Linked DNA regions of Homo sapiens: region 2 is linked to region 1. A link means that fine-mapping ties the variant in region 1 to the expression of a gene that starts in the linked region. Tissue or cell type: whole blood. Region 1 holds a variant in brackets; the other region holds the start of a gene. All regions are shown on one strand. Distances are from middle to middle.

Evidence for each region.
Region 2: it holds the start of CPEB2, and the variant in region 1 is fine-mapped to the expression of CPEB2 in whole blood (TOPMed, PIP 0.98).

What each region holds. Positions count from the first base shown.
Region 1 is chr4:14,881,160-14,891,817 of GRCh38, reverse strand. It overlaps LINC00504 (long intergenic non-protein coding RNA 504), which reads left to right and starts at 3,649. Exons shown (of 7, transcript NR_126435.1): 1 at 3,649-3,759. The variant C/T (reference allele first, on the strand shown) is at 5,956.
Region 2 is chr4:14,997,110-15,007,767 of GRCh38, reverse strand. CPEB2 (cytoplasmic polyadenylation element binding protein 2) reads right to left here and starts at 5,287. Exons shown (of 12, transcript NM_001177382.2): 1 at 3,433-5,287; 2 at 182-463. The coding sequence starts at 5,094. CPEB2-DT (CPEB2 divergent transcript) reads left to right here and starts at 5,723. Exons shown (of 8, transcript NR_038857.1): 1 at 5,723-5,830; 2 at 6,043-6,142; 3 at 6,539-6,607. C1QTNF7-AS1 (C1QTNF7 antisense RNA 1) reads left to right here. Exons shown (of 6, transcript NR_125911.1): 5 at 1,198-1,297; 6 at 2,611-2,826. RefSeq lists enhancers at 2,841-3,407, 6,249-6,298 and silencers at 2,849-3,448, 3,829-4,038, 4,139-4,288, 4,339-4,648, 5,149-6,008.

The DNA of each region.
Region 1 (10,658 bases):
TCTCTTGTGAAATACTCTTGACCTAAAATGTGTGTGTGTGTGTGTGTGTGTGTGTGTGTGTGTGTGTGTGTTGTGAGAAAGTAGGCATAAAAGAGAAGAGAAGTCAATGATGACTCTAGAATTCTGGCTTGCATATTTGTTTGGCTAGTGTTGCCATTGCCTGAAATAGGGAGCTCTGAAAGAAGTCCAGGCTTAGGTGAAAATCTCATGGATTTGATTTTAAACAAATGTTGACTTTCAGATTTTGCCTGACGAGGAGCCTCAGAGTAGCATTGTACTTGTCAGAGACGATGACTAGGAAATTTGTGCAGAAGCTGTGTTTAAATGTTGTATTAGTTTGCTAGGGCTGCTACAACAAAATACCCCAAACTGAGTTGCCTGAACAATAGAAATGGGTTCTCTCATAGTTCTGGAGGCCAGAAGTCCAAAATCAAGCTGTTGGCAGGGTTCGTTTCATCTGAGAGAAGGATCTGTTCTGGGCCTCTTTCCTAACATCTGATAGTTCCTTGGCTTGTGGTGGCAAAACCCAGTCTTCATATGGCATTCTCCCCGTGTGTCTGGGGACACCCATCATATAAGCCCACTCTAATGACTTCATTTTAACTTCATTACCTCTGTAAAGCCTGTGTTTCCAAATGAGCTCACATTCTGAGATACTGGGGTTAGAACTTCAACATATGAATATTAGGGGGAAACACAATTCAAACCATAACAAATATCAAACATACTCTCTTAATTTAAATTTTATTTTTATTTTGGGGTAGCTATTGGGGTGGGGCTAATGAAGATTATTTGGAGGAAATGTTCCCCACCCACCAGCCACTCATTGTTGCTGCCAAAAATTTGCTGCTGTGTATTCAGGTGACTTCAAGATATTCAAAAGCATATGTTATGCTAAGTGAAAGAAGACAAGCACAGGAGACCACATATTGTATAGTTCAATTTCTATGAAATATTTGGAATAGGCAAATCCATGGAGACAGATTCATGGTTGTTTAAGGCTGGGGTTGGGGCTGGGATGTGGAGCACAGCTAATGGATATGAGATTTCTTTTGGGGGTGATAAAATGTTCTAAAATTAAATTGTGGTAATCAACATATAACTGTGGATATATTAAAAACTACTGAATTGTAACTTAAATTGGGTGAGTTGTATGATGTGTGAATTATATCTCAACAAAGTTGTTAGACATTGTCAGCAGGTGGATGTAGGAATATTTGACTAGATGAATTTTAATGTTCATTTCAGCCATGAGATTCTAAGATCCTACATTCCTTTATTGTTCTGAGTCTCAGTTTTATCATTTGTAGAATGAGGAGACTGGAGTCTATGGAATAGATGATTCCACTTATAACTGAGCTGAAAAACATCACCTGACATCCTTATTTTACCTACAGAGCAGACTAGTTTAGAACATGGACTTTGGAAGCAACATACCTGGATTTGAATCCAGTTCTTTCATGGCTCTGCAATTTTAGGCAAGTTATCATACTTCTCCCAAGCTTGCTCTCCAAAAAGGAATATGGAAGGGATGATACAAGTACTACCTTCTTCATAGGGCTGTTGGAAGGATTTAATGTGATAATATTCTAAAGGGCTCAGCAAACACTTGGCACATGGCAAGTCACTACAAGAAGGTAGCTATTAATTTCCTATGGCCAAGACTAATGGCTCTACTTCATTAGTGGACCAGATAATTCTTTTTCAACAGGAAACAGACCATTGTGTTGTCCTTTCTAATTTGATGTTCTATCATTTATACATCGCACGCAATTTTTAATTATTAATTCAGCAGCATCTGTGTCAGTCCAGAACATATTTTCCCTCACACCCCTCCTGCAGTCTGGTAAGATCTTTGTGTTATCAAATAATCAGACTGCCTCTGTTTACAAGAGGCACCAAAAGCCAGATCTGTAATCATTAAAAGCAATCCTGATGGATGTAAATACATCTAGTTAATATTTATTGAGCACATATTTTGTTCAAAATATTATGCCAAGCACAGAGGGAGCTGCAACGATGAGCAATATAAAGATGTTACTCTCACAAATCCCATGGTTTAATGGGGAAGACACCCCCATGTATTAATTCAGTGATACATCAGATATTATTAGGGGAATGGAAAGATATGTCGTACAGTGCATCTTGTTGAGCTCAATAATAGATGTATGAAGTAAGTGCTGAGGACACCTGGAGAAAGAGGTGATTGAGTCAATATGGAGAGGAGATGCCTGCCAGGTGGAGAGGTGAATGAGGCCATTCCCAGTTAAAATCAGGGAATAAACTGAATTTCTCATCATTCAACAAACAGCTCATGCCCATTCATGGCCTGCATTTCTGATTTGGAGACCAGGGAAGGCTTCATGTCTAGGTAGAGCTGCTTCTGGAATGACGAAGTAATATTTGGATATTTAGAGAAGAGACTAGGGAGGACGATCATAGAAAGGGAAGATACGATCAGATTATGAAAGGCCTTCATGCTAAAACACTGAGATCACAAAAACTCATAAAGGGGAATGACAAACCCAAAATTATGCATAAATGTGGCTGTGCACATGCTGGAAATAAAACACACAAGTGGCTTTTTTCCCACTTTTCACTTAGTGTTCTCAACCCAGAATTTTGTGTGCATTGATCAGGAAATTGCTCTTTTTTCCTAATAGGTAAGTATTTGAGCAACAAGGCAGCATGTAGTTTCAACATCAAGCTCACTGCTGACTCATTTTTCTCTCAGCACCTAAGCTTTTCATTGTCAGTAACATTAATTATACCTATCATTCACTCTAACATGACCTTTATTTTTTTCCTCTTTATAACATTCTCTCCACATGGGCTCATGTTTGGGAGGCTGGAGACTGGTGATGTCAGCCCTGAGTTTTCATCATGTGGCAATCAGAGCTCTAGAAGCACAGGTCAGACTTTCAGGCTCTTCTGTTGCTCTGCCTCCAGCATTACGTGCCTGAACTGAATTGGCAAGCCATTCTCTGCTACCAGGATGCAGAAAATCAGGTTCCTAATTTGCCAAACAATTCTTCATTTCAAAAGGTTAGGGCAAGATTTGCAGAAGAGAGTTGGAAGGAACAACCATTTATTAAGATATCAGTGAATGAATGTGGACAGTGTGCTCCAAAGACCCGTATTTGAATCCCAAATCTGCCACTTATTTTCTGGGTAACTTTAAGCAAATTGCTTCCCTGCTCTGAGGCTCTGTTTCTCCCTCCTCTAGAGAATGAGGATGGTATTATTTATCCTGCAGGCTTGCTGTGTGGCTTGAATGAAGTTCTCACTGCAAAGCATGTGATCCAGACTTGGGCACAAGGTTGACTCCTACTGTCAAAGGCTCAGCAGAAATGACAGCTATGGTGAGCTTTCACCTCCTGCAGGCTTTAGGAAACCAGTGTGTAATGGGAAAATAGAGTAAAAACGACTGATATGGTTTGGCTGTGTCTCATCCAAATCTCAACTTGAATTGTATCTCTCAGAATTCCCACATATTGTGGGAGGAACCCATGGGGAGGTAATTGAATCATGGGGGCCGGTCTTTCCTGTGCTGGTCTTTCCTGTGCTGTTCTCGTGATAGTGAGTAAGTCTCACAAGGTCTGATGGGTTTATCAAGGGTTTCTGCTTTTGCTTCTTCCTCATTTGTCTCTTGCCTCTGCCATGTTAGAAGTGCCTTTCGCCTCCCACCATGACTCTGAGGCCTACACAGCCACGTCGAACTGCAAGTCCACTTAAACCTCTTTTCGTTCCCAGTTTCAGGTATGTGTTTATCAGCAGCATGAAAATGGACTAATACAACTACCCTTGAAAATCCCTTAAGCCAAATGATTGCATATATGGTTTTATGCCCATGAAAATAAGGTCGCTTCTGGTTAGCGGCCAAAGTGAACAAAAACCAAGTAAACAAGACATATATTTTAGAATTAAGATCATATTGATCATAGAACTTATTCACCATGTTAGATATGCAGGGGAGTAAGAAAGTCCAGGGCCGACCTCATGGTTGTGCATTCTGTGCCATTGTAAAGGGCCTCACACTCAGAAGAACCCTGTGCTTGGCCCAATGCTCTGCTATCACTGTCTTGAAATTCTTAATTTTTGAATAGGGAGTCTCTCAATTTTACTTTCCTCTGGTCCCTACAAATTATATAGTCAGCCCTTGTCATATATTTAAATTATTATTTCTCACTTACCCTCATTCCCATCCCAATTTGGTATAGTTGAATTCACATAAAGGCTTATATGATATGTTGTATAGCTAACTGGCTGTGGTACACAGTATCTTAATGTATTTTCAAGCATACCCTCGGAGATTGGTATAATTGGCCCCATTGGAAGGATGTGTAATTTACTCAAGGTCATATGATTAGTAAGGCAATTGGTATGCCTGTCTACTCTTTCTATTATGCCACAATGAATGAGAAAAAAAAACAGAAGGAAATTTCAGTGCAAAAGTAAGAGTTATAGGAGTACATTTGAACTAAACCGATGAAGAGGGGCATGCTGGAACCAGCAACACATTATGTATTTATGTAAAATTCCTTCAGATGTGTGCTTGCTTCCTGGCATGAAATCTGCAGCATTTTGCTCGTCATTGTATTCCCAGCCCCTGGCATAATGGTTAGCATGTAGAGGACGCTCAATAAATACTTGTCGAATGAAGGATATTCCTGCCAGATTCTTCTTCATTCTGCATTAATAATTTGGCCTTCCTTCTTGCATATTCATATGTTTGCTCCTTTTATTTGAATCCCCGTCTGTTTGATAGAAGAATGTTCTTTAGCAAGCGTGACGATTAATGATATCAGGCAAAAAGCCCCAAGATCTTAACTGATGAACAAACACAAACTTTGTTAATGATGCTTTTTGTAGAAGACATTGCTGGTTTATTATGTATTTCAAGCTAAAGGAGAATTCTAGCTACCATTTGAATTCTCTGCTACCTGGAGTGCCTTGGAAAAGGCCTTGGGAGAAAGAACTCCTCTTGCAAGTTGCAATTTTAAATTAGGAGTAATCTCCCTGCCACACCTAGGAATGAATTAGCACACTCTTTCTGTGTCATTATCCATTCATCCTTACTCTGTCCCTATAGTCAATGTGTCATGAGGGGCTTTTGATTTTTCCTCCTAAATTGCTCAACACCACCCCTCCTCTCCATGATCGGTTATTTCTCCATCTTGGAACTCACATTTCTCCTCCCTGTACTAACCCAATGGCCTTTTAGCACGCCTCTCTGCCTCCTTCTAATGTAGTCATTGCACAGAAGCCAGAGAAGTCTTTCCAATAAAAGACCCTAAACTCAGCACCCTCCGATTACAAGGCCCCCAGTCTCTCACTGCCAACTGCGTAAGCTCATACCTATTGGCCCAGCATTGCAGAACCCTCACCATCCTTCTCTTAACTACCTTTCTAGTTGATTCCTCTGCATAAACCCACTCATGGCATAACCCAGGCTTGCAGTCTGGTTCTCTGAGAAGCAGACTCAAGTGCAGAGTTTAGTGTTCAGGTGAGATCAACACCTGTGAGGGGAAGGATGGAGGGAAGAGATAAACTATGGTAATGCAGTACCAATGGTGGCCTCTGCCTACCCCAGTGGGAGCTCTGGAGAAAAATTGCTGCTAAGATTTTCCCTCAGTGGACCCAAATGTCTGAGCAGTGGTGGGGAGGGGGCTGCTTCTGGGATGGTGTGACCTTGGGTAAGATGGCTCTCTGCAGCCCAGGCCACCCCTGAGGAGCTGACCGCTGGAGATGTTTCTCTGCGAATGTTTCCAGCATCTGGGAAAACAAAATTTTTCCCTCTCAGAAGGAGGATCTAGGAAGTGTATCTCCATGTTTACTTCACCTAATCTCTTTTTTCTGCAAAGAACTTTTCCTCCTTTTCTGTGGCTTCATGCCTTTGTACCTGCCTTTTCTTCTGTCTGAAATGCCACTTGCCTGCCTCTTTCTCCCTTTGAT[C/T]TAAATACTTTTTTTGTTTGTTTGTTTTTGAGCCGGAGTTTTGCTCTTGCTGCCCAGGCTGGAGTGCAATGGCGCGATCTCGGCTTACTGCAACCTCTGTCTCCCGGAGTTCAAGAGATTCTCCTGCTTCAGCCTCCCTTGTAGTTGGGATTACAGGCATGCCCCACCATGCTGGGCTAATTTTGTATTATTATTATTATTATTATTTTTAAGACCGAATTTCTCTCCTCTTGCGCAGGCTGGAGTGCAATGGTGTGATCTCGGCTCACCGCAACCTCCGCTTCCCAGGTTCAAGCAATTCTCCTGCCTCAGCCGTACTGAGTAGCTGGGATTACAGGCATGCAACACCATGCCTGGCTAATTTTGTATTTTTAGTAGAAACGGGGTTTCTCCATGTTGGTCAGACTGGTCTCGAACTCCCGACCTCAGGTGATCCACCCATCTCGGCCTCCCAAAGTGCTGGGATTACAGGTGTGAGCCACCATGCCTGGCCTGATCTGCATAGTTTTAGTTTTCCTTTATGACTGATGTCAAATGCTAAGTCTTCTTGAAGCCTCCTGTCACTCATCCAGGCAGATTTAGTTGCTATTTAATATTTTCAGTCAATGTACATTGCATATATGCATGCATCATAACCTCTGGACACACTAAAGATATAGGAGGTACAATCCGTGCCCTTATGACCTCCTAAAGATATGTGTCCCTTTTTTTGTGCTGTGGCAATGCTCAGTGCTTTCTTTTATTTTTAGCATCTGCTACATTACTTCTTTATTCATCCACTCAGTTATTCATTTGTTCATTCACTGAGTATTAATCAAGCATTTGCCTTCTATGTATCCAGTGTTTCTGTAAGCCCTAGGATACAATGATGCATAGTCAGGTTTGCTGAAGGGTAAATATTAATCAATGGATCATATAAAGTTTGCACAATTCTAACTTGGACAAAGAGTATGAAGTTCATGGAGCTAGGAGGTTTTACAATAGCTCGTTTAGCCTAGTCAGGGAGGTCAGGGGAAGTGGGTGGTAGAAGTGATTATTACAATATAATTTGGTGAAGGGAGAGGAGAAGAAGCCTTTCAGGTAGAGATTGCAGAATGTGCTCAAGCCCCATGGCAGGAGAGTGGAAAGAGAATTTAAAGATGAAAATGAAGTTGCACGAGGCTGGAGTTCACAGAGCGAAGAGAATAGTAGAGAACAATGTGTCGTGATTGCAAATGCTCATGGGAATGTTTATAGCTTGGCATTTATGCTCAGAGCAGTGGGAAGCCATTGAAAGGTTTTAAGCAAGAGGTCGAAATGATCAGATTAGAGAGCTGAAAATATGCTCTGACTTCAGTATGGAGAATAGATTGGAGGATGGCAGAGATGCCATGTAGGAGGCAGGGCTGTTAACTAATGAAATGAGGGTAGCTTGAACTAAGGTGGGGGATGGACAGTGGGAGATAGATCTAGAGCAATTTAGGGGAAAATGAAAAACAAACCTGGCAATCCTTGGTGATTCGTTTGTATGTCATCTGGGATGACAGAAAGGGAAGTGTCAAAGCTGACTTTAGGTTCCCATTGATCCCTAGCTCTTTTGGATTCTAAATCTGATGAAAATTATAAACCTCTTTCTGGAGGCAGACACACACACACACACACACACACACACACACACACACACACACGCAGCATTTTGAATGTCATTTCAGAAGGACATATAGAACTTGTAAAGCCCATTTATGAGCCCCAGGTGGGAAAGAAAACCAAATCTTATTCCTCACTGTACCTCTTGATTCTATTCTAGAAAACAGTGTGGAATCTGGCATGCAGTACATGTTCGTTGAAGTAATGAATAAAGGTGAGAGGAGATAGAGGGCACTGAGACACTTCTAGTGGTTAATTTTCTGCCCTTTCAACTGCAATATGGATGTAGGCAGTTATAGAAGAGTTATAACTTGCATGTCTATGTACCAACTGCTCATTAACTTGCAAGGCAGCATTAGGTGGGAGAGTCCACAAATGGACTCATGAGCCTCCAGGTGGTGAAGAGGAATAAATTTCAAAGTATTAAGGTTCCAAAGACCCAAGATTTGTCTGCAGCAGCTGTCTCTTCATAATGCTAAGTACTTTGGACTAAAGAATAAAAGTGTCTGCCTTTATTTTATGTGGGGGAGTGCATCATTTAGAGATGAAGACAGTCTGCCTATGGCTGAATGGGTAAGTTAGGTTAATGTTATCGTGTGGAAGAAGCAAAAATGATAACTGTGTTCATAGACAGAGATTTAGAACAGAATCATGTCTTTGCAGATAAGACATTTCAGGAGGCCAGTAAAGATAAGAGGGAGAAAAAATGCATAGAAGGAAGTTTTAGGAAAGATTTAGTTTGCCCTTATTAACCCTAGGCTAGGTTGGATTTTTCTCTTTGTGCTTTGAACAGCTGCATGTTAGAAGGAATTGCCATCTGAACCACAGACTCTCTGAAGGGCCTTAGCGATCACCTGGTTCAGGCTCCACCAGAGCAGGAATTCCCGCTGCAAGACTCTTAGCAGATGGTTTGTGGTTCCTCCTGAAGCTGGGCTAATGAGGCTCTATTGAACAACTCTGATGAAAAGTCCTGTCCTGATTGTTTAGTCTACACCAGGAATGGCAAATAGATTAAATCTGCATGACAATTCTAATTACTCGATAGTGCTTAAGGATTCTGGGGCTGAGTCTCAATTATTTTCAAAAAGGCAATAATTGTTGTAACTTGGAAGCTAAAACTGTTCTATATTTGCCATTCCTGGGCTAGTTCTTTCAGTCAATGAATTCAACTTACATTTATTGATCATCTACTATGGGCCAGTAGTGTGGTGTTAGAGGGTTGGGTTATAAATATAATGGCTATTTCTCAGTTCACATTTTACCTGCCCTATCTGCTACATCAGATACAGTCGTTCACTTTTTTTTTTGAGACATAGTCTCGCTCTGTCGCCCAGGCTAGAGTGCAGTGGCACTATCTCGGCTCACTGCAAACTCTGCCTCCCAGATTCAAGCAATTCTCCTGCCTCAGCCTTCCAAGTAGTTGGGACTACAGGCATGTGCCATCATGCCTGGCTAATTTTTTATGTTTTTAGTAGAGACAGGGTTTCACCATGTTAGTCAGGATGGTGTCTATCTCCTGACCTTGTGATCCACTGGCCTCGGCCTCCCAAAGTGCTGGGATTACAGGCATGAGCCACTGTGTCTGACCCACTTTTCCCTTCTTAAAATATCTTCCTACCCCACAACCCCACCATCCAGCCCCACTGCAATACCCCTGCTTTTGGTTTCTCTGAAACCACATTCTCTCACAGGCCAGTAATAATCTCACAGGCTAGTCCTACTCAATTTTCTCTTCTTCTCTGTCTTAAAATGTCGGTTGGCCACAAGTATGACCCCAAATCTCCTTTTTCTCTCTGTCTCACTTTCTGTCTAGGTACGTCCTGTACCTCCAGTCCCATGTCTTCAAATACCATCTATATGCTAATGATATTCAACTTTTTGTCTCTAGTCATAGAGTGAAACCTATATAACCATCTGCTAGGTGACATCTCCACTTACAGATCTAAAATGCATCTCAAACATAACACATTCAAAAGAGAGCCCTTGATTTCCATATTTCCTCTATCCACCCCCAAAATCAGACCTCGCTCATCTGCCCATCTTCCCCGTTGGTAAATACACTACCATATATTCAGTGGCACTTGCAAACGAGTCAGATTTTCTTTCTTCTTATCACCATTCTCTATGCCATGAGCTATTTCTGCCCATTCTATCTCCAAAACTTCTAACTTCTTTCTAATCTGGCCAAGTCACTCTGCCCCTTGGCCATCCTGATCATTCTTTACTGGAATATGTCAATAAACCCCTGTCTGTTCTTCCTGCTTGCATTCTCACTTCCCAGCGGTCCACTGCCCACACAATAAGAAGATAGTCTTTAAAAACGAATGCTAATGAGATCATGGAAATTGGCTGTTTAGAACGCTCCAAAGACTTCCCTGTGAAGAAAATTCAAACGTGAACAGGGTGGACCTCAGGGTTTTCCTCCCTCACCAATCTCACTGCTCTTGCTTCTTTCAACCACCCCCTGACTTTTTATTGCTCCATGCATCTTCCATTCTTGGGGATTTCACAGTTTTTTGTTTCTCTGCCTAGAATATTCTTTTCTCTGGTTTCCCTATGGCTGGCTCCTTCTTGTTTTCTAGGTCTTAGCTTAAATTCCACCTTGTGGAATATCTCTATCATCTCTTGTCTGGGATGACTGTAATCACCCTTGTTTCCCACTCCTCCACACTGCTCAGCAGGTTCAGCAGGATCCGCTCAGTTTAGCATGGTATAACGCCTGCCCAGCCCTCCAATCTCAACTTCACCGGACTGTGTGTCTCACATGTTCGGTTCGCCTCACATAGACAAGCTCTTCCTTTCCTGTACTGTAGAATGCCTCTGAGCCTTTTCCCAGGCTGTTACTTCTGCCTGAAACTGTCTTCCATCTTTTCTTCTGGCTGACTGCTACTCTTCATCTAAGATGCAATTTACCAGGTGTCACCTTCCCTGGAAATGCTTTACTGACCTCTCTCCTTTCCCAAAGTTCTCCCACTGCTTTCTGTGCTTGGCTCCTGAAAGTTCTTGGGAACTGTTTAGTTACATTGTTATCTGTTTTCTATTCTCTCTCCTATATGGCCTTCTTGGGAAGAGAGTCT
Region 2 (10,658 bases), 120 kb before region 1:
ATTTTACATTCTCAATTTTCTCTGTATAGATATTTTAACCTTTGTTAATTAAATTACATGCTTAAAAATTAAAACTTTATTTCAAAAAATGTTAATTTTAGCATACCACTACCACCACCACCCAACTCCCTATTTTGAAAGATTAACATTAGAGATAAGGTCATTTACATACCATTCTTACCTGTAAGGGTAAGAGTGTATTACTATTGTTGTCTGTTCTGAACACATTATCTTCAATCCAAGATTTTGGAGTCAGTGATGGAGTTGAGCGAGTAAATTTCGGTGGTGCTATGACATTACCAGAAAACGGTTTCTTCAATGGAGATATCTGATTCATAGTTCCTGGGATTCCCATGTTTCCGGTTCTACGATGATCTCTGCCATGCATTGCTCCCCAGGACATACTTCCAGTGCCCCAGCCACTGCTCTGATGGTTGCTCCAGGGAGACTGTTTCAGAAGAGGCTAGGGAAAACATAGCTATTTAAATTGCGGCATTTAAAGAATTTACAATTCAAATTCAAATTCAAATTTCAGACCTAAGAATTTATATGAATGAAATATATAAAGGCAAAAGAATACATCTTTTCTAGGTTATAAAAGTAACAGTCTTGAGATCTTTCTATGTGAAATCATATTTGATGCTGGTCAAGTTTTCATCTTCTTGTATACTATAAATATCATGATATTTTATGACAGTTACTAAAATAGAACCATGCAGTTCCTTTTTATCCTTCAGAGATAACTGTATACATGATAAATATGAAGAAAAAAATTGAAATTAACTCTGAAGATTCTTAAAGATATAACATACATGGTGATCTTAAAGCAACCATATTAATTATGCTAGGCACACAACTAAAAATATGGTCTTTGTTAATTAAAATATCCTACTCATACAAGTGAAATATATAGACTTTATGTTTCCAAAACAAGTTGCACTACTACAAAAGTGGGAATTACTCTTGTACAAATTAAAATCGCCTTTTGAAATAAGGACAGTATAGAAACTATGTCATTTTTCTGCATTGTTTATTTAACTGTTAAGGCATTTTATTCCAGTTTTAGCATAGTTTGTCTTAATTGTTTTTATTTCACTTAATTATCCATAAACTGTGAAGCAATTATCTGATGTTGCCCATAGGTGGATCCACTGAGGTATACTGCTAATTAACTATATGCTTTGATTATTCCACTAGAGATCTTGATACAAGTCTCCATCAAGTTGATTCATTTTCAAAAGTAAATTACATCCTAATCTCAAACCTGTGGCAAGACAAGTCAAATCATCAAAGAATGGTAAATCCATCAAAACGCTAATAATTGTAGTTTTGGGTTTTTTTTTTTTTTAAGAAGTATTCATTGCTGGTAATTCTACTGTCAGTAAGTTTATACTTTAATACTTTGGTGTTAAGATGTAGCTAAAGAAGTATGAACCATACAGTTACTACAAATAAATATGGTTCTCTTAAAATTGAACCTGCTTTTTGTAAGACAATTAAAAGAGAAACTCCTGATCTACAGCACCAATTTTTAAACACTTTTAAATGCTAACATAATCATGAGTATATTATTACTCTTTCCTCTTCCACAGAGGTCCAAAGCATAATTACAGAGCCATGGACAAACCACTTCATTCTTGAGGGCCTTACTCTCCTTATTAAATGATTTAATGCTCAAAGTTATCTTCCAGTGATCTAAAATTCCATATGAAAGCTGTGTGACCTCTCACACTCCATGGCTAGACCCATCTTTTGTCCAAAAGCAAATTACAGTTAAATATGGATCATGGTATATGTTCTTCCAACGCTCTGTACCACAACTTTAAGTAAATACAAAATTACCTACAGATAATTTTCTGTGGGCAAGTTTCCAGATAACAAAATGAAGATCCTGAGACACAAAAGACAGTTGCTGAGGGTTATAAAAATCATGAAAAAGTGGAACATTATTTCAAAATCCCTATTTTCAATCCTCATAGGCCACATTCTCTTTTCTAAGAAAGAAATCAGTGATTCAACAAAAACTGTTCACTGTCACTTTGGTTAACTTAGATAAACTGTTAACTTTCACTTGGGTTAATTTAGATAATATTCACTTTAAAAAGACTAATCCTTGAAAACTTTGGTCAACTGAAAAAGTTATGGGGTTAAGGTCATATTTTGCGTCTCTGTCAATCCTTAATCACGAAAATAGAAAATGGACTTAAACAGAATGAACTCTGCAACAAATGCTAACAAGATTCAAAACCAACAAGACACTCTTTCAATGCCAATTTACCAATCTAGCGGTCACCCAAAAATTGTATTGAGGGAATAACAAAAAAGATCTTGAATCAAAAAAGATCCGGAAAATAAAAATTCTGCCCAGTGTCATTTCACAATATTACCTACTTAAAATACACACGGCCCACATATTCCCTTGTAGAAGGTTAAGGCAACCAAAAAATGTACCGAAAGTCTACGAGGAAACACACCAATCCCAGATCCAAGTTCAGTTTTGTCTTAAAACCCACAAAACATGACCCCAACATTGAAAAGCACAGAAACTAAGACATTCGTGGGATATCTCGGTTTGAACCCGAGCGGTCACTAACAGTTTCTCTTTCCCAGTCCTGTGACAGCCAAGGAGGCGGCCCCGCGGGAACCAGGTCCTGCGAGGAGGGCGGTCGGCCGCTCCCTCCCGACTCCCTCCTGGGCCGGCGGCCCAGGGTGCGGCGCTGCCAGCAGGTTGATCGGGCGGAGCTTTGGGAGCGGCTCGACTGACCGCCCGAGGGGCTGAGGCTTCAAGGCGAGATCACCGCCGGCCAAATAAGAATAAACAAACTCCAAAGAAAAAAAAAAGCCTTTCCGCCTTCCCTCATTGGACAGCGAGACAGAGTCTTGGGCTCCTCCGCACGCACCTTCTCCAGCAATCATTTTTCCCCTGCCCAAGTTCACTTCCCACGGCCGCTCTTCCGAGGCCCCCGGCCAGCCCCCGGTCCTCGCCGCGCCTCCCCGCGTCGGGGGTCCGGGGCGGCGGCCCTCCAGGCCCAGGGCACAGGGCGGATCCCGGGGTGCGCCAGCTAGGAGGGCCGGGTTGAGACGCCGCGCCCGGCCGCCCGCGGCCCCGGCGCTATTCGGCCCCTGCCCCAGTCCCCACTGCTGCGCCGGGACGTTCGAGGGGGCGCCCGGCCAGCCGCGGCTCCCAGCGCGAACTCGTCTCCCACGCCCCCACAGCCCACGGTGGCCACTGCCCTCCCAACCCACCGGGGGCTGGGGTTCCGAGTCCTGTCACGGTTGTCCGCCCTCAGTTCCACTCTCACTTGGGCGAGTGGCCCCCGTCGCGGCTTCTCTCGGGGCTAAGGTCGGGTCCCCGGCTGCCCTGCCCCCGCCTCCGTCCCCCGCCCATGGTCTCCCGGTCCCGCGGCGCGGCCAGGCCGCCGCCCGCCGTACCTGGTGGTGGTTATAGGAGTTCCTCTGCTGCAGGAAGGCGGCGGCCGCCGCCTGGTGCTGCTGCTGGAGCTGCGGGCTGACGGGCGACCTCCGGCTCTGCGGCTGCTGCGGCGCCGCGGGCGGCGGGGGCTGCTGTTGAGGTATATTCATGGCGGGCGGCGGCGGAGGGGGCACAGCGGTAGCCGAGAAGGGGCCGCCGAAGCCGCCGCCGCCGCCGCCGCTCGTCGGAACGCTGAGCCCAGTGCAGCCGTGCGGCGACACGGGCGAGAAGCTAGGGAAGAAGGCCGGGTTCATGGACGACGGCAGCCCGGGGTAGAAGCCGTTCTCTGAGTCGGGGCTGGGCGGCGGCATGGCGCTGAGCGAGCCGCCGCTGCCGCCGCCCGGGGTGGTGGCAGACGAGCCGGGCGGCTGCGGCTGCGGCTGGGGCGGCTGCTGGGGTGGCGGCGGCTGCTGCTGCGGCTGGGTCGGCGGCGGCTGCTGGGGCTGGGGTGGCGGCGACGCGGTCTGCACCGACCAGGGGGTGCCGAAGCCGGGCAGCGGCGGCGGCGACGCGGAGCCGCCTCCCCCTCCGCCTCCTGGGGGCCCCCCGCCCCCGCCGCCGCCGCCGCCGCCCGGGTGTGGAAGGTCCGGGCTCTGCAGGCTGCTGAAGGCGCCCGCGCCAAGCGCACCTCCGGGCAGGAGGTTACTGGGACTGTTGAGCAGAGGGTGGTTGGGGGACTCCATGGAGCCCGGCGCGGGGTTCACCGGCGTCGAGGAGGCCAAGCCCGCATTGGGGGACTCGGCGGCGCTGCCCTCGCCCGCGGCTGGGGTCTTGCGAGGGCTGCCCGCGCCTCCGTGGCGGCGCCGCGGGGCTGCAGGCGGCGAGGGAGGGAGCTGCGGGAGCGGGGGCAGGTCTGCCGGACGCTGCCGCGGGGCGAAGTCCTGCGGCGAGAGGTGCTGCTGATGCAGGAGGCTGAACTGCTGCGGCGGCTGTTGCTGCTGGCGCTGAGCGAGCTGCGCCGGCTGGAGGAGCGGGCCGGCTGGCGGCGGCGGCGGGCTGAACCGACCGGGGCAGTGGAGCGGCGGAGGCGGCGGCGGCGGCTTCGAGTCCGGAGGGTGGGGAAGGTGGGGAGGGCTGAACTCTTTCCTCTTCTGGCTGCTCAGCTGCTGCTGCTGCCGCTTACTGAAGTCCTGCGGGGAGGAGGTGCGGCAGCAGCAGCAGGAGGAGGCGGAGGAGGAGGAGGGGTGGTGCAGACTCGGTTTGAAGTCCTGGGAGGGGAGGAGGTGGGTCACACCCGCGATCGTGCCGCCGCCGGGGTGGTGGTCGGGGAGTTTCTCCGTGGCCGCCGCCCCCGAAAGCGGCCGCGCCGGCTGCTGTGTCAGCCCCAGAAGCAGCTCATCCTGCATGGTCTGCTGATGCGCCAGGAACGGGGAGGAAGAGGAAGCGGCGGCGGCCGGGCTGCCCGCGCCGCCGCCGAGGGGGACGGAGAAGGGGGAGGCGGCCTCTAAGAAGCCGGTGACAGGCAACGGTGGTGGCGACAGTGGGCCGAAGGGCGTGGCGGAGGGCAGCGGGTTGACGGACCCCACGGCGTAAGGACCATACGCCTCGCCGCAGAACAGGGGCCCAGGACTGCTACTTCGGAGCGGGGCGGTCTGCAGCACCCCAAACCCGAAATCCCTCATTTATCAGGCCGCCGGCAGCGGGAGGAGACGCTCCTCGTCCCCTGCCCCACCTAGGAAGCCGCCGGCGCTGGGGTTGCGCGGCCGTGGTGGAAGGAGGGGGAGTCAGTGAGAGAGGGACACCGTGACTGAGCCAGGGGGCACCGACTTCGGCCCCACCACCCCTCGCGGCGATCGCCGCCGCCGCCGCCGTCGCAGTCGCCGTAGCCGCCCTGGCCGCTTAAGAACCCCGGAACGTGCGTCAGCGCCACCTCACAATCGCGCCGCCCCCCGCGGTGCGTCCCGGCACGCGCGGGCGCGAGGCCACCGCGTCCCCGTCGCCCCTCCCCGCCCCTCATTACTATGCAGACGCAGCCGAGGGCGCGCTCGCGCTCCCGGGAGGGCGGGAGCGAGCGGCGTGTCCCGTTGGGTCTCTCCGCTCCCGGGGAAATGGACAGGCCGGTTGGGGTGGGGGTCGGCTGGCAAACAGTGGTCGGGAGCATTGGGCGGGCGCGCGCACGAGGGCAAGCACGCGCGGGAGGGAGGGACGGTTCCTGGGCAACGGCCCCTCCTTGGCGCGGGATCCGCGCAGAGTCTGCCTGGGTCGCACGCGTCTCCGCCCCTCGCGGTGCCTCCTCCTTCCTGTCACCTCGGTTCCGCCCTGGGTGGGGAGAAGCCCTGCTGCACCACTCGGGCTTCCCAGAGCGGGGCTGGCCCGCGGGGGAAACTGAGGCCCGGGACCCCGACCGGCGCCTGCACTGTGCGACCCGCGTAGAAATAGGCGCCCGAGGGGCCCCCAGCGCAACGCGGGAGCCCGGCCCAGCCCGGGGGTCCTGTGGTGAACTAGCGTCTGGGCTCTGCCGGCTTGAAGTCCGCTGAGCGCCTCGCCGCGCACCTCTAGACCCCGAGTCCCCGATCTAGGGCCTCCTTGTAGCCCTAGGTAGCGCCCTCTAAGCTTGTTTCTGTTTTTAGGCGCTGGTAGGAGTGCTGTCACCGACGTCGTAGAGCCGCCGAGGGTGTTTCTGTAGGGTAAACATGAAGCCTCGGCTATATTCCAGGCATTTTCACTTGGGTAAGAAGGAACAAAGTCCCTGGAACAAACACGCTCCGCGTGGTTATTTACACACTCGGATGCGTGGAACGGGTTCCACGGCGAGCTCCCATAGTAACCCCGGGCCAGCTCCGCTTCATAAAAGCCTTTCGTGTGCCATCAGGGCTGCAGCGTGGGACTCCTCCCCACCACATTCATTCCGGCGTCCCCGCCCCTTCCCCCCAGGGAGACTCTAATTTATTCCTAAGCTTTATGAATTTTCAAGGGAGAAATAGTTCTTACATCAGGGAAAAAAGGAGGTTCTGACTCAGCAGCAGACTTGTTGAGACTTGCAAAATGGAAGGGAGAGAGCTTTCCATGGTAGAGCTCTTTAGAAGCATTAGAGGAGGAACTAATCCTGTGTTTCCTTTTGTATAGAAACATTTTACATAAAGTATTTGAAGGTCTAGATAAAGAATAACAGAGTGATCCATACTACATGATGAGGTGAACTTTATGTTTCTGTTTTGTAATTTTAACTGTTTTGCTTGATGCTTAGAGAAATGAAACTATTAAATGAATCCTAGAATATAGACTCAAACCCCCAAAGCAATAGAAGGTGGATTCAGACTTTACTTGATTTTGGTTTACAAGTGAACTAAGATTAAATATTTAATTTTATAAATTAGCATACTCTTACTGATGTAGGCAGAGTGTACATTTTTATAAGTCCTCATTCTCTATTTGAATTCTACTTCTGTTCAGTGTCTCAAATTTATATAAATCGAAATAAACATGGTAGAAAGAGAGCAACATTGCCCCAGGGAACTATACTTCATGTATAATGTTTATCTCTGCTATCCTGTCCAATGAACCAAGTTTTATGTTGCCTTTACAATAAGGAAAAAGTACTTTTTAAAAAACTCAAATGGTTCAGAATTTGGTCAGGTGAATAGAAAATTGGTTCAACTTATTAATCTCAAAATCATTTTTAACAGTCAGGCAAAATGTAGAACTGGAGAAGTATTTTTATTCTAAATTACAATGTCTAGAAAATAACCTGAGCTCAGAATTTAAAATATAAATGGTTATTTTCAGAGTATATATTGACATATTAAATATTCATTTTTTAAAAGGTATTGTGCAGGAAAAAAAACTACTTCTGCAACTAAGGAATGTAAAGTCTTAACAACGGATGATTTTTTTCCAAGTACAGTTGTATTTGATTGGAATCATTTGCAGATCCAACAACAAATCTTGAAATAGGGGGAAAATACAGGTATAAACCTTAGCTCAATTATCCACTAACACCGCAGTTAGTAAAGAGGAGAGAGCACATACTTTTAAAAGCTAACTGGTGCCTTTCTGGGCTAGAGTTTTGAACAAAAACAAGATTTCTTAGTGCTCTGGTACTAGTTTTGTCTTAGAGGATTTAGAGCTCTCTGAAACGGGGAAAAGCCATCAAGTTTGTTATTACATAATAATGTCAAACTTCATATTAAATACACCAAATTCCAAATCCTGCCAGGGCCTCTACTCACTACTTTTGTGAGGGCCCCATTTTTTTAGAGCAGAAAGTTACTTTCTGACATCTTGTAAGCTGGTGATCTTGCCCTTATTGAAAATATTCAAATGAAAAGGTTTCCTAGGGTGGAGAGTGGAGTGGGGTAGGGAGAAGGAGCAGCAAATACTGAGGAGGGACTATGGTCCTCTAGCAGTTTCCATGCCAAGATCTTATGAGTCCATTCAATGATTTTTTTGGTTTTTTACATGAAAATATTTTGACTCATGATCATTAACTAGGACCTTGACTTTGTATTTGACAGTCCCTTATTCATTTACTCCCACTGTCCTGGGCAAGTATTTTTAAAAGTATTTTTGCTACAACCCAATATATGTGCAAGTACACACTCATGCAACTGAAATAAAGCTGCTATTAAGCAATTCTTTTAATAATGCAACAAACTCCTTTTTATAATTCTATTTTCATTTTAAAATCACGTTTGATCTCAAATTACAAAGTTGGTTTTAACACCCTCTATCAGATTATGAACTGAAAAACCACTGTCCTAGACCATTTCAAACATTCTGCTCAATCTGAAAACCTCTTGTCACATCTCTCCTACATGCATCTGCTAGCATGTAGCACTCTCAGCTGCTGAGCTACATGCTTATTTCACTGAGAAAAAAGAAGCAACCACAGGAAAACTTCCACAGTCTCCCTGCATCTGTCCCTGCACACCTTGCCTTCCCTCTCGATACAATGGATGGCCCATCTGCCCATACTCCTGTCTAAGGCCAGCCTCTCCACTGGCGGAGCAGATCCTACCTCTAACCTACTCAAGACATGGGCTCCAACAGTTTTCTCTCTCTGTCCTTCATCATGACCTCTTTCCTCTCCAGGAAACACTTCCATGTGCACAAAAACTTGCTTTACTAGTTCTCACCTTTGAAAAGTAAAGCCAAAACCTTTTGACCTTATATTCTCCCTCCTTTAGCTACTGCCTTCTTTTTCTGCTTTTACATTGCCTGAACGACTTGCCCATTTGACTGAGTGTCTCATAGATACCTCAAATTAAACACGTCAAAAATTAAACTCCCTGCCTCACTAGGCCCAATCCCTGTGGCGCTCCATTGTTCTGGTTGCTCAGGCCAAAAACCCTGGAGTCATTCTTCACTTCAATCCACTTCTGTCCTTCTTGCATCATATCCAAGCCATCAGAACATGTTGCTTGTCCTACCTTTAAATTACTGGCATAACCTAGAGATACCGTGGGTTTTGTTCCAGATTACCACAATAAAGCAAATATCCCAATAAAGCAAGTCACACCAATTTTTTGGTTTCCCAGTGCATGTAAAAGTTATGTTTACAGTATATTATACTCTAAACATAAGTTCTCAATTATAGTCTAAACATAACTTGTAATTACATTTAAATAAGTGCACAGTAGCATTATTCTGAAAAATATACACACATTAATTTAAAAATACTGCTAAAAAGTGCTAATGATCATCTGAGCCTTCAGTAAGTCATAATCTTTTTGTCAGTGGAGAGTCTTGTCTCGACATTCATGGCTGCTGACTGATCAGCATGGTGGTGGCTGAAGGCGGAGGTGGTTGTGGCAATTTCTTAAGACAAAGATAGAGTTTGTCACATAAATTGAATCTCCCTTTCATGAAAGATTTCTCTGTACCATGCAATGCTGTTTGATAGCATTTTGTCCACAGAACTTCTTTCAAAATTAGTCAGTCCTCTCAAAACCTGCTAATGCTTTATCATCTAAATTTATGTAATATTCTAAATCTTTTTTGTCATTTCAGCAGTGTTCATAGCATCTTCATGAGGAGTAGATTCCGTCTCAAGAAACCACTTTCTTTGCTTATCCATGAGCAGCAACTCCTTCTCCATTCAAGTTTTATTGTAATATTGCAGCAATTCAGTCACATCCTCAGGCTCCACTTCTAATTCTAGTTCTCTTGCTATTTTTACTACATCTGCAGTAACTTCCTTCACTGAAGTCTTGAACCCCTCGAAGTCATCCAAGAGGGTTGGAATCAGCTTCTTCCAAACTCCAGTTAATGTTGACACTTTGACCTCCCATGAGTCACACATATTCTGAATGGCAGCTAGAATGGTGAATCCCTTCCAGAAGGTTTTCAATTTGCTTTGCCCTTATCCATCAGAGAAATCACTATGGCAGCTATAGCCTTATGAAATTTATTTCTAAAATAATACTTGAGGCTGTCCTGGTGACAACTTAGTGATTTTAAATTTTAAAATGAAAATAGAATTATAAAGAGGAGTTAGTTGCATTATTAGAAGAATTGCTTAATAGCAGCTTTATTTCAAAACAATCTCAGCACTTTGGGAGGCCAAGGCGGGCAGGTCACTTGAGGTCAGGAGTTCAAGACCAGCCTTGCCAACATGGTGAAAACCATTCACTTCTAAAAATACAAAAATTAGCTGGGTGTGGTGGCGCATGCCTGTAATCTCAGCTAATTGGGAGGCTGAGGCAGGAGAATCGCTTGAACCTGGGAGGCGGAAGTTGCAGGGAGCCGAGATAGTGCCACTGAACTCCAGTCTTATAGCCAGAGCCAGATTTTGTCTCAAAAATAATAATAATAATACTTGAAACTCATAATTACTCCTGAATCCATGGGCTGCAGAATTGAAGTTGGGTTAGCAGGTATGAGAACAACAATTATCTTCTTGTACATCTCCATCAGAACTCTTGGGTGACCAGGTATATAGTCAATGAGCAGTAATATTTTGAAAGCAATCTTCTTTTCTAAGCAGTAGATCTCAACAGTGGACTTAAAATGTTCAGTAAACTATGCTCTTTCCAAGTTTTGTGGTTCCATTTACCAAGCACAGGCAGAGTAGACTTAGCATGATTCTTAAGGGCCCTAGGATTTTCAGAATGATTAATGAGCATTGGCTTCAAGTTAAGGTCACCAGCTACATTAGCCCTTAAGAAAAGAGTCTGTCTTTTGAAGCTTGAAGCTAGGCATTGACTTTTCCAGCTATGAAAGTCCTAGATGATACCTTCTTCCAATA